Regions from separate parts of the Homo sapiens genome. Here all the other regions are reported to be linked to region 1. Evidence: microRNA targets listed by miRTarBase, many of them from high-throughput screens and not tested one by one. Region 1 holds a microRNA gene; each other region holds the end of a gene's coding sequence.
Evidence for each region. Region 1 holds the annotated microRNA hsa-miR-6811-3p (AGCCUGUGCUUGUCCCUGCAG, at 5,246-5,266, shown strand). A microRNA usually pairs through its seed, bases 2 to 8, with sites in the 3' UTR of a target mRNA and lowers its output. Matches are read on the target gene's strand: a 7mer-m8 pairs with bases 2 to 8, a 7mer-A1 pairs with bases 2 to 7 and ends in A, and an 8mer does both.

Region 2: the mRNA of FOXK2 is a reported target of hsa-miR-6811-3p. Seed matches in the 3' UTR shown: 7mer-m8 at 6,563-6,569 and 7mer-m8 at 6,108-6,114.
Region 3: the mRNA of PDE6B is a reported target of hsa-miR-6811-3p. Seed matches in the 3' UTR shown: 7mer-A1 at 5,649-5,655 and 7mer-m8 at 5,455-5,461.
Region 4: miRTarBase lists MANSC1 as a target of hsa-miR-6811-3p. Seed matches in the 3' UTR shown: 7mer-A1 at 6,642-6,648, 7mer-A1 at 6,509-6,515 and 7mer-m8 at 5,439-5,445.

Annotation. Positions count from the first base shown.
Region 1 is chr2:237,505,723-237,513,422 of GRCh38, forward strand. MIR6811 (microRNA 6811) reads left to right here and starts at 5,209; the gene lies at 5,209-5,266. It overlaps MLPH (melanophilin), which reads left to right. Exons shown (of 16, transcript NM_024101.7): 3 at 4,852-5,073; 4 at 5,267-5,379. RefSeq lists enhancers at 4,679-5,179, 5,180-5,680, 7,061-7,561, 7,562-7,700.
Region 2 is chr17:82,600,871-82,608,570 of GRCh38, reverse strand. FOXK2 (forkhead box K2) reads right to left here. Exons shown (of 9, transcript NM_004514.4): 9 at 3,969-7,268. The coding sequence ends at 7,072. Among named protein-coding and RNA genes, the nearest start is that of FOXK2-AS1, 16 kb to the right of the region's middle. RefSeq lists a silencer at 5,440-5,549.
Region 3 is chr4:669,171-676,170 of GRCh38, reverse strand. It overlaps PDE6B (phosphodiesterase 6B), which reads right to left. Exons shown (of 22, transcript NM_000283.4): 22 at 5,389-6,125. The coding sequence ends at 6,064. ATP5ME (ATP synthase membrane subunit e) reads left to right here and starts at 1,895. Exons shown (of 4, transcript NM_007100.4): 1 at 1,895-1,959; 2 at 2,205-2,259; 3 at 2,770-2,868; 4 at 3,652-3,735. The coding sequence starts at 1,924. The coding sequence ends at 3,671. It overlaps MYL5 (myosin light chain 5), which reads right to left and starts at 1,629. Exons shown (of 9, transcript NM_002477.2): 1 at 1,488-1,629; 2 at 1-98. RefSeq lists enhancers at 1,059-1,128, 1,006-1,763 and a silencer at 1,339-1,608.
Region 4 is chr12:12,323,115-12,330,814 of GRCh38, forward strand. MANSC1 (MANSC domain containing 1) reads right to left here. Exons shown (of 4, transcript NM_018050.4): 4 at 2,942-7,700. The coding sequence ends at 6,913. Among named protein-coding and RNA genes, the nearest start is that of MANSC1, 23 kb to the right of the region's middle. RefSeq lists an enhancer at 2,193-2,693.

The DNA of each region.
Region 1 (7,700 bases):
TCCCGTCCTAGAAGCGTTTTCCTTCCCTGGTATACGCCCTTTCTTCAGAGGCTGCCGGGCCTCCCTTGAGGACAGGAGTGCCCCCTTGGCTCTGTTCTGCCCCACCAGTCACAGCTCTGGCATGCGTGTCCCAGGGCCCTCTGGAGGTGGGACTGCAGAGGACAGTAATGTGGGTCCCCTGCCCCAAGGACAAGGACAGCACTTCCCTTCCACCCCCATGCATCCCCGTCTCCAGGGCTCTGTCTCCCCTGGGAGCTCACTTTCTCGGCCTTTGCCATCATCTCCCCACTGTCTCCCATCGCTTAGTCCCTTTTCTCCACATTCTGGGAGGGAGAGCAAACTTGACTTCGAAATCAGCAGTTCTCAAACCTTTGGGCCTCAGGACCCCTTCACATTTCCTAAATTACTGAGAACCCCAAAGAGTTTTATTCATATGGGTCATATCTATTAATATTTACCACATCAGAAATTAAAACTGGGAGTTAAAAATATTTATTTATTCACTCATTTAAAAATAACAGTAAACCCCCTACATGTTAATATAAATACAGTTTTTATAAAAAATGAGATTTTCCCAAAATCAGAGTGTGAGTAAGGTGAGTGGTGTTGTTCTGCTTTTGCAAATCTCTTTAATGTCTGTGTAGCAGGACAAGCCACAGACAAGAACTCCTCAGACACCGAATTGTAGAAGGAAAGGGCTTTATTCAGCTGGGAGCATCGGCAGACTCACGTCTCCAAAAACCAAGTTCCTCGAGTGAGCAATTCCTGTCCCTTTTAAGGGCTTACAACTCTAAGGGGGTTCATGTGAGAGGGTCATGATCGATTGAGCAAGCAGGGGGTACGTGACTGGGGGCTACATGCACCTGCACCAGTAATTAGAATGGAACAGAACAGGACAGGGATTTTCACAATGCTTTTCCGTGCAATGTCTGTAATCTATAGATAACATAACTGATTAGGTCAGGGGTCGATCTTTAACTACCAGGCCCAGGGTGTGGCGCTGGGCTGTCTGCCTGTGGATTTCATTTCTGCCTTTTAGTTTTTACTTCTTTTTTCTTTGGAGGCAGAAATTGGGCATAAGACAATATGAGGGGTGGTCTCCTCCCTTATCTGGAACAATAGAAGATGGGTGAATTCTCCACTTGCTTCTGCATTCAGTGGGTCGTAACATGTTTTCTAGGCTGTAGTATTTGAAGAAAATCTAGGCTCATACAGATACATAATTGAAAAAAGGAGTACTTGAATAGCCTTTGTAGACAATAATTAACATCATGTGTTGTTACAACATGAAAACCCGGCAGTTGGAGTTGGTAGTTTTTTTCCTTTTTCTTTTTTTTTTCTTTTTTTTTTTTTTTTTTTTTGAGACAAAGTCTCTCTCTGCCACCCTTGGATGGAGTGCAGTAGCGTAATCTCGGCTTACTGCAACCTCCACCTCCTAGGTTCAAGCGATTCCCCTGCCTCAGCCTCCTAAGTAGCTGTGACTACAGGTGCGTGCCACCATGTCTGGCTAATTTTTGCATTTTTAGTAGAGACAGGGTTTCACCACATTGGCCGAGCTAGTCTCAAACTCCTGACCTCAAGTGATCTGCCTGCCTCAGCCTCCCAAAGTGCTGGAATTACAGGCATGAGCCACTGCGCCCGGCCAGTTGGTAGTTTCTTAAAGGTTAGTTGTGATGTGGAATCTGAAACCATGTTAATGAACTTTTCCTTTTCTGTTTGTTCAAATCCATTGGTCTCTCTTGCACTTGAAGTGGATTTTCTACCCCTGTGTGATTTTTGTAACACCATGCATTAATCATTTGGAAGACACCGGCTCACTGAGTGATGCAGACTTCTCAAATGTTGACACATTTCATATGCACACCAAAAGAGAACCACTTCTGTTACTCTCACCAGCGATCTCATCAAAAGTCTCCCGGTGTTGGAAACCCTCATCAAAAGTCTCCCAGTGTTGCAAACTGTCAAGCTCACAGCAGGCGATATATGTTTTCCAGAATTCTACTTTGTGCTTGAAAGCTTCCGTTTTATTACTGGCAATAAATACTGTCACTTCTTTTCCTTGAAGTGAGAGTCGCACTTTGTTCATTTTTGAGAAAATATCTGCCAAGTACCCAAGTCGAAACAGTTCATCTCTCTGTTGTTCTCTCAAGTGAAAATGCTATTTCATAAGAAAAGTTTCTAGCTCAGGTGGCGATCGGAACAATTGCCCAATCCTTTTAATAGAAATATCTGTCACCTTCAACACGTGGCACAAGAGCTTCCTGTCCTCCTCCAAGCTCATCAGGCAGAATCCTCAAAAGACATGGACTGGGGGCCACGGTTCAAAAAGACTCATAACTTTTAGGGTTTCATCAAGGTGATTCTTTAATGAAACTGTTTTTTCTTCTCATTTCTTTTTCTTTTTTTTGAGACAGAATCTCACTCTGTCACCCACGCTGGAGTGCAGTGACACAATCTCGGCTCACTGCAACCTCTGCTTCCCTGGTTCAAGCGACTCTCCTGCCTCAGCCTCCTGAGTAGCAGGGATTACAGGTGTCCACCACTGTGCCTGGCTAATTTTTGTATTTTTAGTAGAGACGGGGTTTCACCATGTTGGCCAGGCTGGTCTTGAACTCCTTACCTCAGGTGATCCACCTTCCTCAGCCTCCCAAAGTGATGGGATTACAGGTGTGAGCCACTGCACCCAGCTCATTTCTTTTTCAATGAAGGATCTAATGACTGTCAGAGCAGTTGGGCCCACTGCCCTGACTCGTGCTAAAGCCTCAGCAGTTTATCCACCATTGTTTTTACACCTTCAGTGCAGGCATCAAAGAGCAAAGAAAAGGCAAATGATGTCTCAGCATTATTACAAAAATAGCTTTGGCCTTGTGACTCACCCCCCTAAAGGATCTTAGGAACCTCCAGAAGAGAGGTCCCTGGACCACACTTTGAAGACCACTCTTCGAAATCATTGGATCTAATATTCCACGGTAGAAATTGTGCCCATTTCCCCCTCCATTGTGAGCTGTGATTTCTCGCCATCTCTGTCTTAACCAGTTCTTCTCCACCTCCACCAGCATAGCCGGTGGTGCTCCCATCTCAGCCTGGTTTCCTCCTGTGTCTCCTCTGTCCCTCTCATTGAGACTGCACGTACTTGCTTATGCCCCATTCAGCACACCAAGCTGACTTGTTTCGAGTCTGTTTCTGATGGTAAGTCACATTCAGGAGGGTCTTTTATTCCTGAAGCTAACTTTAAATTGGAGCCACGTGCCGGGCTCTTGCCTGTTGAGGAGTGACTTCTGGTCAACCCAATTAGCAGAGTGCATGGAGTGCTCTGGCCCCATTCACTCCTCAGGATCGGAAGCTCCGGGTCTTGTTGATACGTCCTGGAGTGGCTGGCAGATGTCATTTGGTCTCCCCAAATGGAGTCTTCTCTGCCCTCCCTTCCTGGTCTCTGGCTATGAAGAAGGGAAGTTATGTTTTAAAGAATCTAAAGCACAGTACAGTTCTCCTTTCCCCTAATTTCAGCCTCTGAAATATATCAGCCTCCAGCTGCTGCCCCAGGACACTTCTGGGCTCTTATTTAAGAGGACTCCTCCAGCCTGGAATGCAGGGCAGTACACATGTCCTTGTCTTTCTTCCTGCTGTGCTGGCCCTCAGGGTACCGTTCTGCCTGGATACAGAAGAAGAGGTTCTCCCTGGGACAGAGGCTAACAAGCCCTGTCCAGCGAAGGGGTGGCCTCCAGGTTTTCTGGTTGGTGCAGAGCTGGCAAGGGTGGAAATGGAGGGAGTGAGGCCCTTCCCATCTGGCTCCAGGGACTTGTGCTCCTCTGTTTGGGACAAAGACTTTACCTTGTCAATGCAGCTTTATCTAAACTGTAGTCTGTGGATGGCGGTATCCCCCTAGATTCCTACAACTGCTTGACCCTTTTTCTCTTGGTTTTTGAAGCTATGACAAGAGCCTGATTTCGTGTCCATCTCAGTGAACATTTTTGTAAATAGTGGAGAGAGGAAAATCGTGAAGTTCAGCCAATTGCACTTGAAACCGGAGGTGGCCTCCCCCTGCCTGGTGGGACTCCTCCACTCTCTTCACCTTTGCTGCACTCTGGGTGTCCGCCTCCAAATCAGTGTGCTTCAGAGTTCTCAGAAGACAATGGCACCTAGTGTCCTTCTTGTTTTTGTCACTAAGAATGGATTAATTTTATCTCATCTGAAACTGAAAATATTACGTTTGGCAGACATTCTCTGAAATCTAGAACAAAAGAAATGTGTTCATTATCATCTAAGGATACACTTTCCAATCAGTTCAACTTGGCAGGTTCACCAGGAAGCTGTGTTATTTAAACTCGGATGGTCTAGGAGAACTGTAGACTTCCGGGTGCTAGATGATTCCTGCTCTGGAAACTCACCGAGCCATTTCAGCTGCGCTCTAGAGGAGCAAACCTGGGGCGTTAGCTCAACTCTTGCCCCCCTGCTGAAGGAGACCAAAACAATGCTTGATCAGGAAACACCATCTGGCTTTGCCCCCAGGATTCTGTGACTGCCCTGGGGAGGGCGCAGTGACCTGCCAACCAAAATTGGTACAATTGTAAACAGCCACAGAAATGCTTAAATGCAATATCATTTCTATGAAATTAACGTGTTTCCATTCCATTCCAGCCACCAAAATTGCCCGTTTGAGCTCAGCCCTCAAAACAAAGATGCCTGTGTGGCTTTGCCCAACGTTGGGTCACTGTTTTCTGCATAGGAGACAGTTACTGTGTGTGTGTATGTGTCTGTGTCTGTGTGTGTGTGTATGTACGTGTACACACTTAAAGCCTGTTGCAAAAACAAGATGCCCAATATATTTCTTGTTTCTGATATTTTCCCAAGGGCGTTGAAGGGCAAGATTAAGAAGGAAAGCTCCAAGAGGGAGCTGCTTTCCGACACTGCCCATCTGAACGAGACCCACTGCGCCCGCTGCCTGCAGCCCTACCAGCTGCTTGTGAATAGCAAAAGGCAGTGCCTGGAATGTGGCCTCTTCACCTGCAAAAGCTGTGGCCGCGTCCACCCGGAGGAGCAGGGCTGGATCTGTGACCCCTGCCATCTGGCCAGGTGAGCCCAGGCCTTGAGGTAAAATGACCTTGATAGTTTCTGGATCTGGCGTGTCCCTTCCATGGGGCTAGCTGAAGAAGGGTGGACGCACACATGCACACACTCGTGTGTGTGTGTGTGTGTGTGTGTGAGATTTATGCAGGCCTGTGTACAGCACTCAGGCAGTGCCATGAGCCTGTGCTTGTCCCTGCAGAGTCGTGAAGATCGGCTCACTGGAGTGGTACTATGAGCATGTGAAAGCCCGCTTCAAGAGGTTCGGAAGTGCCAAGGTCATCCGGTCCCTCCACGGGCGGCTGCAGGGTGGAGGTAAGGAGTGGAGAGTAAGAACGGCTTTTTGTTCCCAGGCATTTTAGGAATATTAAAGCAGGTTCCTTTGGAGTGTGCATGTGTGTGTGTACGTGTGTGTGTGCATGTGTGTGTGCACATGTGTGTGCATGCACATGCCTCTCTGTGAATTCCTGCTTCTGGCTGCTTTTTTTTTTTTTTTTTAATTTTTGTAGAGACAGGCATCTCACCATGTTTCCCAGACTGGCCTCGAACTCCTGGGCTCAAGCAATCCACCCACCTCAGCCTCCCGAAGTGCTGGGGTTATAAGTGTGAGCCACTGTGCCCTGTGAAATTGGCTCCTTTTTATGTGAGGTGCAAACCTCTGCATCCCACTGGCCTGGTCTGAGCACCTCAGAAGTCCTGGGTGCTGCTGAAGTTGCCAATATTTGAAATTATATTGTTTTCAAATCTTCAAAGTAAGTTGAGAACTCAAAGCCAAGTTTCTGAAACCCAGCTGCTGATTGAATCACCAGGGTGCTTGTTAATACTACATGTTTTCCAAGCCCTTCTTCCCTGGGACATCTGGTTTGGGGCCTAGGCTCTCTCTTTTCAACAAACATTTCACATGAATCTGGTGATTATCAAGATTTAGAGAAATCTGTTGTAATTCAGTTGTTTTCATCTTTTGAATCCAAGTATTTATTTCATGATGAATTTGAAATCCAGGCAGTAGGCTTAAACTAAACAATGTGTTCGCCTGTAAGATCCCCCATAAGGCATTTGGAAGAGATCTTTTCAGGGAGAGGGTGGGAGGATGCCGGGGGGTCTTTTGCATTTGAGTTTGAAGGGAGCTAACCCATCAGTGTTTTTGAGAAAGCTCACCTTGTCCCTGTTACCTGGAGTCCAAGGCTTCTGCCACTAAGCCCGGCCAAGCATTCGGGTGGGACAGCCGCCACCAAGCCAGGTGTCTGGGGTCTCAGTGTCCTGGATGACTCCATCTGCAAGACCAAGGCGAGTTTCTCCAGGGCCACGAGGCAGCGCCTGGCTCCGGCAGCTGGGCACGTCCAGGGCAGAGGCTGTGCTTCTGGATTGGGGCGTCCTCACCATGCCCCAGCCCAGGCGTCTCCCCCAGGCCTTCCTTCTGGAGAGACACCTTATTCGTGCCTGTCTCTTAAAGCCTCAAGTTTGATTGAAGAAGCAGAAGTTGGCATAGACACCTTTGAGCATTCAAGCTCTCGCCGGGCCTGCTGCAGGCATTTCAAGGCATCTTAGCCCATCGTTTAATTTAGGACAGAGGCCACGGAGAGGCACCGCTGGAGCAGTACACCGCACACCACAGGGTGGCTGCACTTTTTGGGTGGTGGGGTGGGGATGGGGGCAGGTATGATCAATCATCCAAACCAGGGCATTTTTAAGAGTAAAAGGAGGCTCTACTGATAACATGCTGCAACAACAGATGTGACTAGGAACGGCCGGTGACATGGGGAGGGCCTATCACCCTATTCTTGGGGGCTGCTTCTTCACAGTGATCATGAAGCCTAGCAGCAAATCCCACCTCCCCACACGCACACGGCCAGCCTGGAGCCCACAGAAGGGTCCTCCTGCAGCCAGTGGAGCTTGGTCCAGCCTCCAGTCCACCCCTAACAGGCTTAAGGATAGAAACGACACATAACACCGGGAAAAGCCATGCTGTCAAGCATCTCAGAATCTCAACCCCAGAGGCAGTCTTTAGGGACTGGGGTGGGCTCAGGAAGCTGTATTATTTCAAAGGACGCAGTGTTTCCACAGCTCAGCCCAGAGCTGCTGGAGTTCACACGGCCCACCAGAACCTGCTGACTTCAAAATCATCACCACCAAGGGGCCAGGAGGTGGCGCTGTGGGGCAACAGAAAACAGAAAACAGCTGCTCCTTGAACTTGGATTCCCAGCAGCTCCCCCAAGCGCCCACAGGGGCTGCATTCCTCCCTGCTGGACACCTGTAACTACAACATTAAAACAGGGCGCAAGCAAGGAACACAAACACTGGGAAAGCTGTGCCTTTAAAAAAAAAAAAAAAAAGGAGGGTAAAAAAGCTTAAGGTTAATGTTTTGAAACCTGACCCAGCCAGGGCCTAATGCAGACCTTGTCCAGCTAGTAAGTGGGCCTCTGGGGGTCTTCATTGAGTGAACCTTCAGAGTGCTGGTGTTTCACCAAGGCCTTCCATAGAGGACGCGGCAGGCTCTGCAGGAAGCAGCTTCGATGGCCGATGGCCAAGAAAGGAAGGGAAAACCCCTGGACTGGTCGCTGGGCACCCAGTCCCCCTACCCCCGTGCCTTCCCTTCCAGTGCCTTTCCCTCTTTCCCTCGGTGGTAGCTTTGCCTG
Region 2 (7,700 bases), not on the chromosome of region 1:
CGTCTCTACAAATAAAAAAAAGTTTTATTTTTTCCCCTCAATTTTGATTTCTTTTTTCAATTTTGTTGCCTGCTTGCTTTACATTTACTTTGTTGTTGTTGTTTTTGAGACGGAGTCTCGCTCTGTCACCCAGGCTGGAGTGCAGTGGTGCGATCTCAGCTCACTGCAAGCTACGCCTCCCGGGTTCACGCCATTCTCCTGCCTCAGCCTCCCAAGTAGCTGGGACTACAGGCACCCGCCACCACGCCCGGCTAATTTTTTGTATTTTTAGTAGAGACGGGGTTTCACCGTGTTAGCCAGGATGGTCTCGATCTCCTGACCTCGTGATCTGCCCACCTCGGCCTCCCCAAGTGCTGGGATTACGGGCGTGAGCCACTGCGCCCGGCCTCAGAATGCAATTTTTTTAATCTTTATTTTTGAATATTTGCAGTGTACTTTCCATTTCAGCATCCTTGTTTGTCTGTTTTTTGAGACAAGGTCTCACTCCCATTGCCCAAGCTGGAGTGTGGTGGTGCAGTCACGGCTCAGTCCAGTTTCAGCTTCCTGGGTTCAGGCGATCCTCCCGCCTGGGCCTCCTGAGTGGCTGGGACTACAGGTGCACACCACCACACTTGGTTTATTTTTAGTAGAGACAGGATTTTGCCAAGTTGCCTAGGCTGGTCTCCAACTCCTGGGCTCAAGTGAGCCTCCCACTTCGACCCCCCAAAGTGTTGGGATGAGACACTGTGCCCCGCCCTGCATTCCTAATTCAAAAATTTGAAGTCCAAAATGCTCCAATGAATATTTCCTTTGAGCATCGTGTCAACACTCAAAGTTTCGGATTTTAGATTACTGAGTTTTCAGATTAGGAATACTCAACCTGGATAAGTCAGTTTTCTTTGGCTGCTTTCCAGGTTAAAAAAAAAATGTCTTTTCTTTAGTTTATTGCCTCAACATGGTTTTCCTTGAGATGATCTTATTGGAATTCACTCACCTTCGTGAATCTTTAAAGTATTTATTAAAAAAAAAAAAAAAATATATATATATATATATACACACACACACATATATAGGCCAGGCGCGGTGGCTCACGCCTGTAATCACAGCACTTGGGGAGGCCGAGGCGGGCGGATCATGAGGTCAGGAGATCAAGACCATCCTGGCTAAGACGGTGAAACCCCGTCTCTACTAAAAATACAAAAAATTAGCCGGGCGTGGTGGTGGGTGCCTGTAGTCCCAGCTACTCCGGAGGCTGAGGCAGGAGAATCGCTTGAACCTGGGAGGCAGAGCTTGCAGTGAGCCGAGATCGTGCCACTGCACTCCAGCCTGGGCAACAGAGCGAGACTCCGTCTCAAAAAAATAAATAAATAAAAATAAATTAAAAAAATATATATATATGTATTTTTTTTTTTAAATGAGACAGTCTCGCTGTCGCCCAGGCTGGAGTGCAGTGGCGCAATCTGCGCTCACTGCAACCTCCGCCTCCTGGGCTCAAGCGATTCTCCTGCCTCAGTCTCCCGAGTAGCTGAGATTACAGGTGTGTGCCACCATGCCCGGCTAATTTTTGTATTTTTAGTAGAGATGCGGTTTCACCATGTAGGCCGGGCTGGTCTTGATCTCCTGACCTCGTGATCCACCCACCTCGGCCGCCCAAAGTGCTGGGATTACAGTCATGAGCCACCGCGCCCACCCGGACTAAAATATTTCTTTAAAAAAAATTGTATACGTTGTTTCTCTGTTTTATAGGAATCTAGTGACATACACAGTAGACCCTTCAATCTTGTCCTACAAGTCCCAGTTCATTTTTGTTTCCAAATGTTTTTCTGTTTATTCACTGAATTTTTTCATTTCTTTGATTCAAGAGCATTTGCCCTTATTTCACAGAGCATGGTTATAATAACTGTTCTTTATCTGATATTCCCAATATTTGGGTCATGTGAGAGTTGGCATTCGGTCTTTTCACTTTAGGGCAGAGATTTTTCTGGCTCTTTTTACGTTTAGTAATTTTGTATTCTAGACATTCGGCATACCTTGAGACTCCCAAGTCCATGAAACCCTCTGCAGGATGCTGAGTTGTGTCTCAGCAGGCAAGTAACCCAGTTATGTTCTGATTGCATGTGCCAGCCTGCCTCCTGGAGCTGTGACTCTGGTGTCAGGCTAGTCTTCCAAGTCTGTGTCGTGCTGTTCACCCAGGGGCCAGTCTACACAGGAGTTGAGCTCAAATAGCCTTTGCTGTTTTCCCCACGTCAGTGCCATTCATGTGGAGCTTTAGGGGGTCTCTTAACTCCTCTGCTGTGTCCTTTGACTTAAAAGCCCAGGTTTCAGCCTCTCTGTGCTGTTCCCATTCCTATGACTAGGTCCAGCTTGGGGCCAAAGTGGAGCAGGGATTTCCCTCATGCTCTTTGGACTACAGGGGCCTGTTTTCCAATTCCTCTCGTCAGCGTGAAGGGTTCTGTGGGAGTCGCCAGCGTGAAGGGCTCTGTGGGAGTCGCCAGTGTCTGCAGGGCTGCTGCTTGCAGGAGTTTCCCACGACCGTCTCTGCCCAGGATGAGAGGGAAGCGGGCTTCTCTTGGAGATTTTAATGTTCATCCCTAATGTGCAGTTCGGATAGACCGCCCCCGACTAGGCCCAGCAACGGACTAGGCTCAGCAATGGGAGGGGAAAACCCAGGAAAAACCCATCACACCGGTCCTTGTTCTGGCTCTAGTCTGCCTGCTGTTCTGTATTATATACGACTGACTTTCCATAGGACTGAGATAGTTGCTCTGTTTGTTAGGTCCACAGTTAGTCATAACCCCTAGGAGACACAGGTGGAGGAGTCCACTGGAATCTTTGTAGCCAGTTTAGTCATCAGAGGTCACTTGAGACCCACTCTGAATTGTAATTTTGTGTTGCTGTGGACATAGCTCAGAAAGGGGGCAACAAACAGTGACAATTTCCCAGCACCCATCAACGCAGCCCGGGTGCACTGCAGACGCAGACCTGGCAGAAACAAATTACAAATGACTGCTTCACTTTGCTGGAAGAGGCAGTCTCGCAGGGCGTGATAAACAGTTCTTTTATGCCAGTATGAACTGTTTTAAATTAGGGGATCAGTGTAAGGAATAAAACAAACACTCCGTTATGAACTCTCTGTCCGTGAACATCATTTAGCTCCCAAAGGCCTCTGTGTCATTTTCAGCACGGTTTCTTCCCTCTGCTACCCTGGGGTGAGTACTGATAATGTCATCACGATTCCAGACATTAGCGATCCACACCAGATTTTCAGGGCCTGAAGATCAAAGTGTTCCTGTGTGGGAACTTGAATACCCAAGTACCTCTTCAGAAGAGCTGCTTTTTCTTTTTTTCTGAGACGGAGTCTCGCTCTGCCGCCCAGGCTGGAGTGCAGTGGCGCAATCTCGGCTCACTGCAAACTCCACCTCCCAGGTTCACGCCATTCTCCTGCCTCAGCCTCCCGAGTAGCTGGGACTACAAGCGCCCGCCACTGCGCCCGGCTAATTTTTTTTGTATTTTTAGTAGAGATGGGATTTCACCATGTTAGCCAGGATGTTCTCAATCTCCTGACCTCATGATCTGCCCGTCTCGGCCTCCCAAAGTGCTGGGATGACAGGCATGAGCCACCGCGCCGGCCAAGAGCTGCTTTTTCATTTTCTGAGAAAATGTCCCTCAAGATGCTTTGCAGTGATCTTCATTCTCAGGTTGGAGAGAAAGTCTGCAGAAGAAATAGTGGCAGCCACAATCTCCAAGTAACTTTAAAACTCCGACATCATAGATCAATCAATCAAGACCCTGTTACCACTGCCTGTGACACGGCGCCTTTTCTACCTGCACGCTCAACCCGCTGTCCCACTGGCAGGGCCTGCAGTGCTGGTCCTCAGTGCAGCTCCCTGGTTAAGTTCTTGCCAATGCGCTAGGCCTCCGGTGTGCTCAGAAGAGAGCATGAAGTAAAAAGTCAGTCAATCAAAATGAAAATGATACTCTGCATTCCATTAAAATTAATAAAAATATTTTATTGAATTTCAGGAACTTGGTACTTTTTTAAAACTTCAAATCTTTGCACACAAATCACCACTATACTTTCTAGAATAGTGGAAGTTAGGACTTCAAGATTGTCACTTATCTCCTTGTGTCACACAGCACAGAAACCCCAAGTCCTCACACTGCCCCCACCCCCCTTCTGGCCATGACTACCAACTACTCTGTTATTCTAGCGGAGGACAATGACGGAAGTGGGTAGACGACTGAAGGAGATCAGCTGTCCACCGCGTACTCTACTAAAGTGAGAGGAGGAGCAACCGAGGATCATGCCGCACACACTCTGAGTGCACCACGTGACGTGGGTCATACGGGAGTTCCCTTTTGTTTTCTCGTTTGGTTCAGGGCAAAGCTACTGAAATTGTTCCTAGTCCCTGAGGAGCTCAGAAGTTGGGCAAAGGTCACAGCAGACTTCCTGAAAAGCAGACACTGAGGAACACAGTGGAGAGCGGGAGTTCACAGCGACGCAGCTGAGGACGACGCAGGACCTCTCCCAAAGGTGCTGCAGCTCCAGCACCAGGGGCCAGGGCTGCGGCGACAGCAGCTCAGCAACCCTTGCTGTGCTCAAGTTCTTGGGGATTCAGAGCTAAGTTCAAAATTTAGAAACAGTGCCTTAAAGACGGGCAAGAAAACCCGGTGTGGGAGTCTGCTCATCTATGGTTTGTTACTGCTCTCGCTTCGATATTCTTAAATTCCTAGGTACCAATGAAAAAGCCAAGTGAACGTGGCAGAGTGAGGAGGAGACAGGAGCGTGTGCACCTTCCATCTGTGAGAGGCACACTTCAGTCTGGGTTCAAGATGCAGAATGGTGCCTACGGCAAAAAAAAAAAAAAAAAACACCCTCCTCCCTTCTTTACCATTTGAATGGACATTTTCCTTACCTGTGATCCCAACAGAAACAGATCCAGACCTATCATGTGAAGTCCACGTTCCAGGATCAGAAGTAACCAGTTTATGGACTGAGCTTACACGGGAAAGTCTACCCCCGACTCCTTCTGGATAGTAACATACACAGCTGCATAAAAACGTCTCCAAGGGGACATACGATGCATTTGCTTGGTGTCCCAGCCAAGCTCCCCACCGGCGACCTCACTGTTCCTTAGAGCTCAAGAGCTCGTCTCCTATCAATCAGAGAACCCCATCAGCTGTGACCAACAGAGCTGGAGCCCTCTGTGGAGGGAGCTGACCCCACACACAGGACAGAGCAGAATCCTGATTATTTTACAAACTGCAAACCTTCTGAGTAAGAAGACAAAAATATACATTCCAAGGTATCTGTAAAGTGCTTGGAAGATGCAGACAGCTGCACCGAGGGGCTCTGATCCATCCACACGCTGCGCTTTGCTGCGGTCACACACACGGTCTCAGTCACGTGATGGTTTTGCTTTTATTTCTTAAACGGCTGAGTGATAATCCAGCTAGTGTGCAGTCATTTCATACCTTTCAATGGGCGTCACCGCAGTGACGCTGCCCCAGCCCCATGCTGAGGGCCGACACAATTCACGGAACAGATTCATCATATTTGGTCTTTATGTAAATAATAAATGTTTTAAAATTGCCTAAATATACCATTCTGAGCCATTTCATCCCTATTTCATCCCACCAGGAAAATACAGGTTTTTTCCTCTCTAAAAAAAAATTAAATACCAAAATAACTACATTTAAATAAATAATGTTATGATGATGACATTTAAAAGCTCAGCCATCAGGCTGACGCCCTCTCCCCATGTGCACGGCCCTCGGCCCTCGGCCGGCACACTCGGGAAGGGCCAGCGGTTTTCTTCCTGAGGAGCCGGGCGAGGAGGTGCAGGGACCTCCCACTCTCATTCCCTCACCCCCGTCCTGTCCTCATTTTCCGTAGAGGAGTCAGCCTCAGGATTGGGTTCGGTTCTGAAAGGTCAGGGACATTTCCTACCACAAAACAGGAAATGCCCCAGACGTGCCCTGCAGGACGTGGCTCGGACCCTGCTCCACCATGGCGGCCGCTCACCGAAGGTGGGGAGTAGACAGCAGGTCAGAGGCCGCCTAGAGCCGGAGGGACACCCCAAATACAAACATACCACGGAGAGACCTGGGATCTGAGTTTCAAAAGGGCCTGTGATAAAAGACTGAATCTTTTTCCAAATGAAGTAGAAATGGTTCTGTCGTTTTAAACATACACAATACTTAGGAGACTTGTTTTACTCAGAGTGGAAAATTTTGCCAGGGACAAAGTCAACACAAAGAAACAAACAACAAAAAATAGCCAGAAAGAGAACAGTTAAGTGCAGCTCGGTGAGTCCCGGCAGTTCCTTCCCGGCACTGGCTCGTCCCTGGGTTCTCAAGGTTCCATGCGGCCACAGCGTCCGTCCACCTGTCCACGCGAGCCACATGCTGAAATGGAGGTGGATAAAATTCATCAGGCAGCTGCTGTAACACGGAAATGTGCAGATGCCAGAGTAGCTTCGTCTGAACTTGAACAAGACAGACAAAAGGAAATCATTCCATAGGCTGAAAACAAAAACAAAACTACGTTGTTTCTTTGCCCCAAATGAAATCCACGGAAAGGGCCTGTGTGATTCTGAAAGTCTCAGTAGAAATGGAGTGATGTGAAATGCCCAAGACCCCATTATTTTGTAAAGAAAGGACACCTCAAAATACTCTAATTCCACATGTCTCCGCTGCCTGGTGGGTCCTGTGAGGGCGGCGGGGATGGCTCCCCCCGCGTCCTGAGGCCTAGTCTTGGGAGACCCACTCACAGCAGGCGCTGGCCGTGCCGTCCTCACACAGCGATGCCTGGTCCTCGCGGGAGGACAGAGTTTCACTCGTAGGTAGAAGCTCAGCCCAGCAGGTGCTCAGTGGAGACACCGTCTCCCAAATCAGGTTTTGTTGTGTGTGGGTTTTGTTCAAGTGTGACTTCTGTCTTTAAGGAGTGTTAAGGCCAGCTGGGTTTTGGGTTTTCAGTGCTGAGAGGTGAAGTCCAACCACAGGGCCCTGCACCCCCGAGTGCTGGCGGGAGGCCGCGTCTCCTTTTGGCACCACAGAGTTGATATCGTTAAAGAAAAGCTCTCCCGGTCGCTAGTTCTGGACACCCTTTTCCCTTACGGCTGCCGGTGGCGTGTCCACGCTCAGGGCAATGACGATGCCCTCGCCGTCTTCTGTCTTGATCCGCTTCAGCTCCGGCTGCTCCGGCTGGTCACCGTTGTGGCGCTTTGTGGGCAGGGAGGCCGATGCGGATGCGTGTGTTGCCAACATGTGCAAAGGACTCGCCGCGGCTGAAATGACACGAGGGAGTCAGAACCCCACGCTCTCACGTGAACCCTCGCGACTCAGAACCCCACGCTCTCACGTGAACCCTCGCGAGTCAGAACCCCACGCTCTCATGTGAACTCTCGCCCTCTAAGGGTCCTGCCACTCCCAGGCCCGCGGAGGCTCCCACAAGACCCCAGGGACTGGCCCACGGTGGCCAAGGGCACAGGAGCCTGGGCTGGGCCCTTGGGACCCCAAAAAACTGCAGCAAGTGAACTGCCTGATTAGCGGACATTTTTATTAACAGCTGGCATCATCTTTGTTATGTCCTATAAATAGGCTATTTTGATGTCACTGCTGGGGGAGAAAGGCTGAGTCCAGTAGTGGTTGAGGCAGACAGGAGATGGCCCTGCTGGCTCGGCGAAGGAGTGGCTGCCGCTCGCTGCTCTCCCTCATGC
Region 3 (7,000 bases), not on the chromosome of region 1:
GGGCCAAGATGGTTCTGTGCCTTGTGGATCCAGTGTGCACCTGCGGCTTCCTCAGCGAGCAGTAGACACGGGGAGGGCTGGAGTTTGCTTCTGGCCCCCTGAGGACAGGGTTCAGGCAGAGGCCTCAGGCAGGAGTCTTCAGGGACTGCCAGCCAACCTCACAGAAGCTGGAGAAAAGATCAGGTGGCCCTACAGCAAGTACCTAACCTTTTTGGCGCCTGGGACAGGTTTCACGGAGGACAGTTTTTCCGTGTTGGGGAGGAAGGTTTCGGGATGAAACTATTCCACCTCAGTTCATCAGGCATTAGATTCTCACCAGAGCGCAATCCAGATCCAAGTGCGCAGCTCACAGTAGGGTTCACGCTCCTATGGGAATCTGATGCCCAGGCTGATCTGAAAGTGGGTGGAGCTCGGGCAATCATGCTCCCTCACCTCGTCCTGTGCTGCCCGGTTCCTAACGGGCCACAAGCTGGTACTGGTCTGCACCTGGGGGTTGGGGACCCCTGCCCTATAGGACTGGCCTTGGTATACCCAGCTCAGGAAACAGAGCCCAGTGACTTCCTAGTTTCTCAGCCAGAGAGGCCCAGGCCCTGGACCCCAGAGCAAGCCAGGAGAGGGGGCAGAGGCGACTTAGGCCCGGACAGGTAGCCCAGGCCGCCAGGATCACGGGTCCTCCCCATGCTTGCTTCAAGAGTCCTGGAGTTTGTGATGCTGCACCTTAGCGAGACCCGAGCCATAGTTCTCCAGTTGCTTCTGCCTGTAGCAGTGCAGGGCCAGGAGGGGACACAGGAGGCCTTGCGTCACTACTGCATGGGGCCAAAGGGGGCCCGAGGGTGGCCCAGCACGGGCAGCATGGCTGCCGCCAGGAAGACCCAGAACGTGGAGGGGGTGCCAGGCTCCTGCCTAGACTCCAAGCCTGGTGTCCATGGGGCTGGCGGGTCAGCACTTCGGGCACAGCGGGGAGGCTGCATAGGCACCGCAGGCCCCATCTCTGGGCAGCTGTGGGAGACACACAGCTACCGGGAGGTGGACAGAGGCCAGCAAAGACCAGTGTGGGGCTCAGTGGTCCCCAGGCCTGGGCCGGGGCAGGCCCTTGGAGCCGTGGAGTCCTGAGGCCTGGAGTCGGGGGACCCAGGGAGCAGCCTCTGTTGGGGGCTGGTCTTCCCAAGAAGATCCCAGCCCCTCTTCGGGACAGAAGTGATGGGGCATCCTGGGGTGAGGAAGCTCCAGCTCCGGGATGAAGGGCGCCCCGTGCTCCCGGGCAGAGCAGCCGCAGGAAGAGGGGCCTGGAGGCCATGCTCCCGCGGGCCGCGGAATCCAACGCGGCCCGGCCGGCGACAGACACTACTGCCTTGTAGGAGAAGGACCTGCCCGGGGAGCCACCTGCACTCGGCTCACACTCCGCTCCCAGGACCCCCAGGTCCCTGCCCAGGCCACCCTCGGGTGGGCGCGGTCCGCGGGGCTGGACCCGCCCGAGCCGCCCTGACCTCAGGCCTCCGACGCTCCGCGCAAGAAGACAGAGTGCGCCCCGGCCCGCAGTCTGGGGTGTGGACACACGGCCAGGACGCGGACGGCGGGGCCTCGGCAGCAGCGCGGGGAAACAGCGGACCCCCAGCCCTGCGGGGAAAGGAAACCCCCCGCCCACTCGGCGCAGATCCCGCCTCACGCAGCAACTGCGCAGGCGCAGCCGATGATCCTCCGCGCACTCCCCAGCCTTTGTGCGCGTGCGCCTCACGTGACGTCACCGCCGCGCGGGGGCGCGCAGTCACCCTTCGGTCGCCAGGGGGCGCGGCCCCCCGCTCTCTCGCCGCTGACGGCGCATGCGTGCGCCCAGCTCCGCCTTTGCCTCCAAGGCTTTGCTGGCTTGTGCGGCATCCTGCTCCGTCTGCAGGTTGTGCTTCCGGTGCGGAGGTCAGGGACAAGATGGTGCCACCGGTGCAGGTCTCTCCGCTCATCAAGGTGATCCAGGCTTTGCAGCCGCCGCCCAGTGCTCTGGGCCCCCCCGTGTCCCGCCCCGCAGCTCCGACCCCGCGGGCTGCGACCCCCGGCCCCCGCCCCCATGATCCTCGCCCCGTGACCCTCGCCCGGCGACCGGACCCCCACCCCTCCTGCGACCTCTGCCCAGCGACCCCGCCCCCCCTCCTCCCGCGACCCCCGTCCCGCGAGCCCCGTTTCGCGCCGCCTCTGACCAACCTCTTTCGCAGCTCGGCCGCTACTCCGCCCTGTTCCTCGGTGTGGCCTACGGAGCCACGCGCTACAGTGAGTGACCGCGGGCGGGGCCGGGGCGGGGTCTGCTCGGCTTTCCTGTGGAGCTCCTGTGCTATTTGGAGAACTCCAGCTCTGGAAGGGGGCTTGGGACGCATGCGAGGCTGCAGGACCGTGTCCTCCACCGAGCGTGACCCCGATAGTGGAATCAGCTCACCCAAAGCTCAGGCTTCTGAGGCCCGGGCGGGGGACTCGAAAACGGCTGCTTCTTGGTGAAAACGGGTGCTAAATGGCTGTTCGAGTGCTGAGGTCTTGATGGGAGGCAGTCCCTGTTCGCAGAGGACGAGTGAGCCAGTGCGTGAGCGGGTGGGCAGCAGGGGCCCTGTAGCCTCTGGGTTGGACTCGTCAGGGTGAAGGTCAGGCGTTGACTCGCATTAACATAAAGAGCGGGAACAGCAGGTGCGTCTGGTTTACAGCGTCGCTGAAGATACCTTGACCTGTGGACTCAGTTCCTTTTGTACAGCATTTCCAGTGAATTTTATTCTCCTGCATTCCGCCAAACAGATTACCTAAAACCTCGGGCAGAAGAGGAGAGGAGGATAGCAGCAGAAGAGAAGAAGAAGCAGGATGAACTGAAACGGATTGCCAGAGAATTGGCAGAAGGTACGAGTGACACTGGCTCTTATAGATTGTCCCTCCCAGGTTTGTGCAGGGATAAGGAAAATGGAGGAGGACATTTAAGCAGAGCTAAGTAGATGCGGATTGTTTAAAAATGGGGAAGCTGGCCAGGCGTGGTGGCTCATGCCTGTATCCCAGCACTTTGGGAGGCCAAGGCGGGCAGATCACCTGAGGTTAGGAGTTCAAGACCAGCCTGACCAACATGGTGCAACCCTGTCTCTACAAAAATTAGCCGGGCATGGCCCGGTGCGGTGGCTCATGCCTGTAATCCTAGCACTTTGGGAGGCTGAGACAGGCAGATTGCCTGAGCTCTGGAGTTCGAGACCAGCCTGGGCAAGATGGTGAAACCCCATTTCTACTAAAATACAAAAAATCAGCCGGGCATGGTGGCAGGCACCTGTAATCCCAGCTACTCAGAAAGCTGAGGCATGAGAATTGCTTGAACCCGGGAGGCGGAGGTTGCAGTGAGCTGAGATCACGCCACTGCACTCCAGCCTGAGCAGCAAAGTGAAATTCTGTCTAAAAAAAATTAGCCAGGCATGATGGCGGGTGCATGTAATCCCAGCTACTCAGAAGGCTGAGGTGGGAGAATCGCTTTAACCTGGGATGCAGAGGTTGCAGTGAGCTGAGATTGCGCCATTGGGTGACAGAGCGAGACTCCGTCTCAAAACAAAAAAAAAAAAAAAAAAAATAACTGGGAAGCTGAAGTGGTCTTTTTAGGTTGCCTGAGTGGTAACATGTGCTTTTCTTCTAACCTTCCGGCCCAAGATGACAGCATATTAAAGTGAGTGACCCTGCGACCCACTCTTTGGACCAGCAGCGGATGAATAAAGCTTCCTGTGTTGTGTGATACTCCGGCTCCTCATTTGCTGTCGCTGGTTGTGGAATTCCTAGGTTGAAGTTCTGTCCACCTCCCAGTTCACGTGAGGTGGAAGACAGGGAGGGGGTTTCAAAAGAATCCACATTACCATTCACAGACCCAGAATGCATCATGTAAACACAGTGGGAAGGACAGATGCGCGCTGCCTGTTCTGTCTGGGGCATCCAGGTGGGGAGCCCCAAAGGCCGTCTGTAATGGAGTCAGTCAGCTGGGGGCCTCATGAGTACTGGGGTTGTCTTGATTCTGAGTTCTAGGCTGCTGCTCTCAGCAGCCCAGACCCCTGGATGGGGAGGGGTAGGCACTGACTGACGCCCTTACAGTTGGGAAGCTGGGTCCTCCTCCACAATAACCCCTCGCCCCAACCTGCCATTTCACAAATCCTCCCTTTGATCCCAGGAAGTGGCCAGGTCAGACTTGGGACTAAAAGTCTGGTGATGTGACCTCCTGAGCACAGGGCCTGAGTGCTGTTTGAGTTGTGCAGGGAGGTGGTCTTGTGGTGCCTGAGCCACTTCCCTCCCCAGCAGGCTTCCTGGGCTTCTCGCCCCTCCTGGCTGTGAGCTTGCCAACAACCCAAACCCTTGGCCTGGTGGTTTGCAATGGACAGATTGAATTTGCTACTTCCCAGTTATGTGCCTTGAGCAAATCTAGGCTTGGAGCCCCAGTTTGTAAAATGAGTTCGTTTGCAAATATAAGGCCAAAGGGAGAAGCAGCCTATAAGCTTTTCAGGACATTTGGTTAAGGTGAGCTTTGAGTGAGCAAGATACTTTCACATCCTGTCCTGGCGTCCAGAGGGGCTGTTTGCAGGATCCCTCAGAACCTCTTAAGAGCCCCTCATCCCAGACCCAGGCTCTGGATACCAGGGGTCTCTGACCAGTGAGATGAAAAGGCTGGGCACGGTGGTTCACACCTGTAATCCCAGCACTTTGGGAGGCCAAGGTGGGCAGATCACTTGAGGTCAGGAGTTCAAGACCAGCCTGGCCAACATGGCGAAACCTTGTCTTTACTAAAAATACAAAAATTAGCTGGTTGTGGTGATGGGTGCCTGTAATCCCAGCTACTCAGGAGGCTGAGGCAGGAGAATTGCTTGAACCCGGAAGGTGGAGGTTGCATTGAGCCAAGATCACACCACTCCACTCCAGGCTGGGTGACAGAGTGAGACTGTCTCAAGCAAAAAACCCAGCACCCCCTTCCTGCAGCCCCATGGCTGTGCTGGGCATGTCTGCTGCTCTCCCACGCCCACCCCAATGAGCCCATCTAGTTAAGCGTCATCTAGTGTTGGGAGCAAATGCCTTGGAGCTCACATCATGAGTTGAACATCCTGAATTTAACATAATACCGATTTCAACTGGGAAGTCCGTTTCTTTGCCTCTGTCCTTCACTCCAGGCTCACCAATATTTAATCATGGGGGTGCACGGGCTTCGGCATCCAGCCCTGCACTGCCCTCCTGGTGCCGTCTGGGGCCATCAGAGCCACTCTACATGGTGTTTATTACAGATCATTTCCGCTCAGACCACTGAAGTTGGATGGCCGCTTTACTCATGGCCTTGACCTCTCTGGCAGAATTTTCTGATGGGTCAAATGTAGTGTGGCTTCCGCTATCATTTTACCACAGATAATGGGCAAGTAGTTTTCTGTTTATTTTATTCTGAATTCCTGAGCATGTGTGTTTTCCTAAACTGGATGAGAAACGGCCTGTGTCCATCTGTCTACCTGTGTACACATATGTACATGTGTGGCTGCAAATGTTCTCAGTGATTTCAGAGTTCATGGACCCTTTTCAAAGGTCTCCCAGTGGTAACTATCCAAAAATGGATGAGTAATGTAGGCTACAGTTTATTCACAGTTGGCTTCAGTTTATAAAAACAGGCTGGGCGTGGTGGCTCATGCCTGTAATCCCAGCACTTCAGGAAGCTGAGGCGGGTGATCACCTGAGGTCAGGAGTTCGAGACCAGCCTGCCCAATATGGTGAAACCCCATCTGTACTGAAAATACAAAAATTAGCCATGTGTGGTGGTGGGCGCCTGTAGTCCCAGCTACTCAGGAGGCTGAGGCACGAGAATCGCTTGAACCTGGGAGGTGGAGGTTGCAGTGAGCTGAGATCGTGCCACGGCACTCCAGCCTGGGTGACAGAGCAAGACTCCATCTCAAAAAAAAAAAAAAAAAAAAATTAAAATATCCAGAATGATCTTCAGTCATTTTCTTGGGCTTCCTAACCTCTTGTAGCAAATAGCCACAGGCAGAACCCAAATCCTAGTGGGTGAAGATTGAGGGAGCCATAGGGTCCCCATGGGACCAGTGCTCACAGGATACAGCAGGTTGAAGACTTGGGTGCTGGGCCGCCATTGCAAATTTCTGTGCCTACTGCAAGAGAAGACAGAAGATGGTGAGTGGAACCACCTGTGCACACCAGCCCTATTCCTTCCCTCCTGCCTGGTGTGACCTCTACCAACCCCTGCAGGAGGAAGGACAGCACCTGGGTCTGTGACCAGCCCAAGCCGATTAGCTGGGCTGAGCCTTTCTTAGTGCTTTAGCCTCTGTTGACACTGTGCCCTGATTATGCTCATCCTGGCCTTCCATAGTCCTGAAGTCGCCTTGTTTATGTAGCATAGGATAGCGGGAATAGCATGGGGTAGGGGGATAGCATGGGGTAGGGGAATAGCATGGGGTAGCGGGAATAGCATGGGGTAGCGGGAATAGCATGGGGTAGCGGGAATAGCATGGGGTAGCGGGAATAGCATGGCGTAGCGGGAATAGCATGGGGTAGGGGAATAGCATGGGGTAGCGGGAATAGCATGGGGTAGCGGGAATAGCATGGGGTAGCGGGAATAGCATGGGGTAGTGGGAATAGCATGGCGTAGCGGGAATAGCATGGGGTAGCGGGAATAGCATGGGGTAGTGGGAATAGCATGGGGTAGCGGGAATAGCATGGCGTAGTGGGAATAGCATGGGGTAGTGGGAATAGCATGGGGTAGGGGAATAGCATGGGGTAGCGGGAATAGCATGGGGTAGGGGGATAGCATGGGGTAGGGGAATAGCATGGGGTAGTGGGAATAGCATGGGGTAGGGGAATAGCATGGGGTAGCGGGAATAGCATGGGGTAGTGGGACTAGCATGGGGTAGTGGCAGCAGCATGGAGTAGTGGGAATAGCATGGGGTAGTGGGAGCAGCATAGGGTAGGGGAATAGCATGGGGTAGCGGGAATAGCATGGCATAGCGGGAATAGCATGGGGTAGGGG
Region 4 (7,700 bases), not on the chromosome of region 1:
AGGGGAGGGGAGGGGGAGGGGAGGGGGAGGGGAAGGGAGGGGGATGGGAGGGGAGAGGAGGGGGAGGGGAGCGGGATGGGAGGGGAGGGGGGAGGGAGGGGAGGGAAGGGAGAAAGGAAGGAAGGAAGGAAGGGAGAGAAAGCAAGGGAAAGAAGGAAAGAAAGAAAGGGAAAATAATCAAAAATATAAGAACACAAACAAAAGCACATTCTGTCAGCTCATCCTCTCTATAGGCTAAGGAAACTATACTATCTGAACCCAAAGGAGAGAAATAAACAAAATCAAATACTTATCTACCCATCCCTCTGCACACGGTCTTAGTTGAAGTGAGAGTATACACTTCATTACTGTGTACCTGGATTTTATCCCATTCTGCTACAAAATGCACGTCAGTGCGTTCACTTTCACTGCATGATATAGAAGCTGTTCTGTATGCAGCCAAATCACATTACTGCCCATTGCTGAAAGAAATGACCTTCAATGAACGGGTTATAAAATTCACTCATGATCACTTATTGAATGCCTATGTGCCAGACACACTGTTAAGCATGATGGAATCAGAGAAATGTTGCTGTCTAACGTATCCCAGTCTAGTGGGGTAATATATAACCTGATACATTATGATTCCATGGAAGTGTTTCACTAATGGTATAAATCACGAGCTGTGTCAGAAACCCAGGAGGAATTGATACGTCTCCCGGGAGAGTGTGGGGAGACTCTGGTGGAGGTGACGTGTGATCGTGGTCTTGAAGGATGAGCGGAAATTTGCCAAGTGAACAAGGGGGAAAGGAATTTACAAGTAGAGGGAAGAGGATGGCTCGTCAAAGTGTCTGGCAATACTGAGAAATGTTGAAAAGGGTGGTGTAGCTACAGCCCAGGTTTCACGGGACAGAGGTAGCTGCAGTGTGGTTAGGTTGGGGCTAGTGCATGGGGAGCCTTGGTACACCTGCCACGTGCAACTGGTAATCATCCCTAGAGGTACTGGGAGCACAGAGTGTCATGCGTGGAGTTACATGTACTGTGTGCTGTGCTTTTAATGTAACTTGAAGTCGTAAGGAGGGAATATATGATGTGGGAGCAGAGCAAGGAGAAGCAAGTTAGGGAGACCAAACAGGAGGCAGCAGTGGGGACGGCTGACTTTGAGAGGCGTCTTTGAAAGACAATAGGTAATATTTGGTAGACATTGGATGTGGAGGCTGAGGCAGCAGGAGAAACAGAGTATGACTTTGAAGTTGCTCAATACAGGAGATACTGGGTGGCTGGCGGTACTATTAACCCAGATGACAGGACACGGAAACAGGATGGGTTCTCTGCTCCGGCGTGTCCCTGAGGAGTCACTCTTAACTTTGGTACAGGTGATCAGCAACTGGGAAAGTGTATGAAGCCCACTCCAGAATGAGACCACTGACCTCTTCATTTCCATGCTTTCGGCTCAAGGTATCATTCGGCTCAACACCATTTAAAAGCTATCTAGGCTGGGTGTAGTGGCTCACACCTGTAATCCCAGCACTTTGGGAGGCCGAGGCGGGTGGATCACTTGAGGTCAGGAGTTCAAGACCAGCCTGGCCAACATGGTGAAACCCCATCTCTACAAAAAAATTAAAAAATTAGCTGGGTGTGGTGGTGGGTGCCTGTAATCCCAGCTACTTGGGAGTCTGAGGCAGGAGAATTGCTTGAACCCGGGAGGCAGAGGTTGCAGTGAGCTGAGATCGTGCCACTGCACTCCAGCCTGGGTGACAGAGCAAGATGCCGTCTAAAAACCAAAATAAAAAGCTATCTAGGGGCAGGCTTATGCCTGTAATCTCGACACTTTGGGAGGCTGAGGCGGGCAGATCACCTGAGGTCTGGAGTTCAAGACCAGCCTGGCCAACATGGTGAAACCCCATCTCCTTTACTAAAAATACAAAATTAGCTGGCCATGGTAGTGCACACCCATAATCCCAGCTACTCAGGAGGCTGAGGCAGGAGAATCGCTTGAACCCAGGAGCAGAGGTTGCAATGAGCCAAGATCATGCCATTGCACTCCAGCCTGGGCGACAAGAGAAAACTCTGTCTCTAAATAAATAAATAAAAATAAAAGCTATTTAGGGCCAGGCATGGTGGCTCATGCCTGTAATCCCAGCACTTCAGAAGGCTGAAATGGGCAGATTGCTTGAGTCCAGGGGTTTGAGACCAGCCTGGCCAACATGGCAAAACCCTGTATCTACAAAAATACAAAAATTAGCTGGGCGTGGTGGCACATGCCTGTAGTCCCAGCTACTTGGGGGGCTGAGGCAGGAGGATTACTTGAGCCCGAGAGTTGGAGGCTGCAGTAAGCTGTGTTTGCGCCACTACACTCCAGCCTGGGTGACAAAGCAAAATTGTCTCAAACAACAACAACAAAAACAACAACAAAAAGCTTTCTAGAACATTTCCAATCTAGTGCAAACCTCTTTTTGGTTACACCGTGTATCATTCCAGTTATAAGAATGTAAAAAGTGGCAACTCCGGAGCCAGGCTATCTGGGCAAGTGACCTCTGGAAAGGCCCTTAAACTTCGCTGTGTCTCAGTTTCCTTATCTACAGAATAAGGATTAAAATTATTCAAAAGGTTGTTGTGGAATTGAAATGAGTTAGTATATGTAAAAGTGAATCTGGCGCATAGTGTAAGTACTTTCTTTTGTGGAGTCTTGCTCTGTCGCTCAGGCTGGAGTGCAGGGGTGCAATCTTGGCTCACTACAAACTCTGCCCCCGCCACGCCCAGCTAATTTTTGTATTTTTAGTAGAGATGGGGTTTCGTCATGTTGGCCAGGCTGGTTTCGAACTCCTGACCTCAGGTGATCCACCCGCCTCGGCCTCCCAAAGTGCTGGGATTACAGGCGTGAGCCACTGTGCCCGGCCCATAGTGTAAGTACTTTCTAAGTGTTTGCTATCAATAAGTAATAAATCATAGAATACTCGACTGAAAGTGGTACAAATATTAGAGATTTATTATTACAGAACAAGATGGAAGTTGGCAGTTCCAGGGTTTGTCCTGTCAATTAACCAAGGCATCCCGGAGACTGGACTCTTCCTGTACCCACTGCCACGCTCAGTGTGGCAGTGCCTTCTCCCCTCATCATGGCAGGGAGGCCACCACAGCTCCAACAACCAAGTCTTCACATGGTCAGCATCCCAAGCATGAAATAAGGGGATGTGGTTAGAAAGGGCTTTTCTCCTTGTGCAGCCTTCCCTTTACAAGCAAGAAAATCTCTCCTAGAAGTCCCTAGTAGGTTTCCTTTCAGCTAAAACTTGGGTCACAGGCCCATCCCTGAACCTGGCACTTCCAACCTGTAACAAATGAGGCAGAAGTGGGACTAGGGCTGGCTGCTGGGCAGCTGACCGGTAGTGCCCACCACAGTCTGGGAGCCAAAGAGTTCCAAAAGTTCCTCACTCAGGCCAGGGGTAATTGAGAAACAGGCACATAACAGTATTCATCCAGGAGTCCTCAGGTTTTTTAAGAGTTTTTTAGTTTTTTTTTTGTTGTTGTTGTTTTGTTTTTTTTTTTGAGATGGGCTCTCGTTCTGTCGCCCAGGCTGGAGTGCAGTGGCGTGATCATGGCTCACTGCAGCCTCGACCTCCTGGGCTCAAGTGATCCTCCCACCTCAGTCTCCCAAAGGGCTGAGATTACAGATGTGAGCCACTATGTGCCTGGCTAAGAGTAGCTTATTTTTATTTTATTTTATTTTATTTTTTTGAGATAGAGTCTTGCTCTGTCGCCTAGGCTGGAGTGCAATGGAGCGATCTTGGCTCACTGCAACCGCCCCCTCCCGGCCTCAAGCAATTATCCTACCTCAGCCTCCCAAGTAGCTGGGATTACAGGTGTCTGCCACCATGCCTGGCTAATTTTTGTATTTCTGTAGAGATGGGGTTTCACCATGTTGGCCAGGCTGGTCTAGAACTCCTGACCTCAGGTGATCCACCCACCTTGGACTCCCAAAGTGCTGGGATTACAGGCGTGAGCCACCACGCCTGGCCAAGAGTAGCTTTTTAACCTAGGTCAGTATCGTGTTGGTAAAATACGGAGAGAGGATGTTTGAGCAGAAGGACCTACCTCATCTTCTCACCTGTTCTAGGCTGCTACCTTCTCTTTCTACAAACCAAAGGAGGGGGCTCATAACTCAATGGGCCTTGTGGGAAAGGCTAACCAGACTAGTCACTGCTGAATTCCTCTAAGGGATTCCCCTACCCTGACTGCCCTTGCCACAGTTGCACCCACCATCCTAGGGGCAGTAAGTAGAGAGAGCTGTGTGAGAAGAGCACTCTTTCCACTCCAGATGTCCCCTACAACCTATATCCTCACGGCCACTAACAGTTTGGGCCCGTAGCATCACTCATCTGGACCGCTCCCATGTGGTCTCCCCATCACAACAAAGACTGCAGCAAGGTGGACAGAGAACTCCAAGAGAGCCAGGAAAATACCTTTATAAACCATCACAGAAAGCCTGATTTCCACTCGCTAAATCCATTAATAAAGAGAGGAGAAATTTTAAAATTCCAAGGCACCTGGTTACTAATCTGATTCTGGCCTACATGTGGATATTCAATAAATACTTGTTAAGTTAAATTGACTCAAGGTTTTATTTATTCAGCCTACTTAAAGCTTATGTAAACCCCTTGGAGATTTGTGTCAAGCTGTTAAGTTGGAAAATATAAGAAAAGTAGTATTTTCAATAGACCAGCTTTCCTCTTAATGTACTTTATGAACTTAGTGTAAACCAGGGAAATGGGGGAGGGGTACCAGAAGAGCAGAGGGGAAGGAGGTGAGGAGGAAGGAAGAGGTGAGGAGGAAGGAGAAGAAAAGCCTTTTCTGTCATTTCCTGCATTTGTCTTAATTGCTGTACTTATTAACCAGCTACTGCCCTCTAGTGCTCACTGTATTAAGTTCGCATCTGAATTCCATTTTTATCTTTAAAAACTCTGGTGACACTTGGAAGGGATCAAATTTCCTGTTTTGCAGATAAGCAAATTGAAGTCCAGAGGAAAGAGGTATCAAACTGACCCAGGGGACTTCTGGACTCTTTGTTACCTCACCTATAACTTGTCTGGAAAACTTTATTAAAAGCCTTTCTCAGAAATTTTAATTGGTAACCAGTAAAAATTGTAGCATCATGTTAGTGCTAGTTATTATTATTATTATTTTTGAGACGGAGTCTGGCTCTGTTGCCCAGGCTGGAGCGCAATGGTGCAATCTGGCTCACCGCAACCTCCGCCTCCTGGATTCAAACTACTCTCCTGCCTCAGCCTCCCAAGTAGCTGGAACTACAGGCGCCCGCCACCACGCCCGGCTAATTTTTTGTATTTTTAGTAGAGGCGGGGTTTCACCGTGTTAGCCAGGATGGTCTCGATCTCCTGACCTCGTGATTTGCCCATCTCGGCCTCCCAAAGTGCTGGGATTACAGGCGTGAGCCACCGCGCCTGGCCTGTGCTAGTTATTATTTCCAATGTTGTTCTAAATTAAGCTTAGACTGATTGCTGGTCAATTTAAGTAAGGATATAAAATAATAGTGGTACATTTTTAACTTAGTACAAGTTTAGAAAATGTCTATAATACTTCTTTAAAAAGTTAACTAGAGGCCGGGCACGGTGGCTCACGCCTGTAATCCCAGCACTTTGGGAGGCCGAGGCGGGCGGATCACAAGGTCAGGAGATCGAGACCATCCTGACTAACACAGTGAAACCCCGTCTTTACTAAAAATATAAAAAATTAGCTGGGCGTGTTGGCGGGCGCCTGTAGTCCCAGCTACTTGGGAGGCTGAGGCAGGAGAATGGCGGGAACCCAGGAGGCGGAGCTGGCAGTGAGCCGAGATCGCGCCACTGCACTCTAGCCTGGGTGACAGAGCAAGACTCTGTCACACACACACACACACACACACACACACACACACACACACAAGTTAACTAGAACAGATCCCAAGTGGATATGGCCATTTATCAGAACTGACTTATCATTGTCTCCATGTGGGCTAACATTCCGCTAGATTCTCCCAAGTGAAGCTCTTTGCTCACTGATGGGAAAAAGGGGGGGTTGTCATTTTAACGTGGAACGCATATTTTCACCACATAATCATTTTGCTAGTGGAAATAAATGGAAAGTTATCCAGCTGGACATGCTACTTATGAGAACACTACTGAGTAACAAAAGATTTATTCAAATATTTAATTGGAAGGAACTACATCTGGAATAAGTTTTAAAGGAATCCATATAAAAAGAAAAGCAAATCCATTAGAAATTGATATAAACAGTTGATTTTATCTGGAACCAAGAATGTGAATGAATTGGAACCTAGATGTCCTAACCTGTTTCTTTGCATAAAAGCCAGTTGAATTTTGAAATTTATATGGCAATTATACTTTATTACTTTACATAGAGCTTTGTTTTTAGCTAATATTTTAGAGACAGATTACCCAAAATTACCTAATTTGGTTCCCACTTCATTCCTTCTCAAAAACCAAACATAAAACAGAAGGGGGCCAGCTGTGGTGGCTCATGCCTGTAATCCCAGCACTTTGGGAGGCCGAGGAGGGTGGATCACTAGGTCAGGAGTTTGAGACCAGCCTGACCAACATGGTGAAACCCCGTCTCTACTAAAAATACAAAAATCACCCAGGTGTGGTGGCACATGCCTGTAATCCCAGATACTTAGGAGGCTGAGGCAGGAGAATCGCTTGAACCCAGGAGACGGAGGTTGCGGTGAGAGCCGAGATCGTGCTACTGCACTCCAGCCTGGGCAACAAAGCAAGACTCTGTCTCCAAAAAAAAAAAAGGAAAGCAGAAGGGGGCATTTTCCTGTCTTCAAAATACAACCTCCTGCTAAGACTAGCAAGTCAGCAGAAACTCATTGCATTTGGGCTTCTGGTTACTAAATGAATTAAGAGACACCGAGTTCCATCCTTAGATGTCCACATAGATCCCATTGATCAAATAATCCAGTCTTGAGTAACGTTTCCTGCGGAGTGATTCCGAGAGGATTCTACCCAGGAGGACGAGGCCTATCACCAGGAACAGGACACCAAAGAGCAGGGACCCGATAAGAAGCCATTTTTCAAATGGAAGGCCGTACTGATTTTCTGGAACACTGCCCTGGGAGGAACTGCCTGGACTGGCCTCCCTACCTTCCCAGGAAGCAGTTTTATTCATAGTGGAAGACTCCACATTTGACATAGAAAGTGCAGTAGGGTTATACACATTCCCTGTGTTCAAAGTTAGGTTGGAGATTTCTGTAAACGGTATGGTTTCTAAGCTGCCTTTCGAGTCCGTAGGTGCCTGAAAGGTGGTAGTCAGAACTGCTGTTGTAGCCATTGCTTGGAGTGTAGCCGCAGCCCGTGTAAAAACTGTAGAAATGAGGGTCGTGGGAGGCTGAGAAGTGACAGTGGTTACAGGTGGAGCTGTGGTGGCCAGCTGTGGCTGGGAAGTCCCAGAAGGTGTCACTGAAGCATTGGTGGGTAGAAGGGTGGCGGGCTTTGGAGTAGCCGAGGTGGTATGTGGAGAAGCAACTGCCACCGTAGCTGGGAGCGCACTCACATTTTCAGGCAGCAGATGAGCTATTTCTTGATCAGAGGAAAATTGTGAACTCTGAGAATGGCCTTTTTCCTTATAAGCAAGGAGCTGGGCACTTGCTTCATCCATCTTAAATAGTTTCTCCAAGTGATCTGAGGATCCAAACTTCTGAGAAAGTGTGT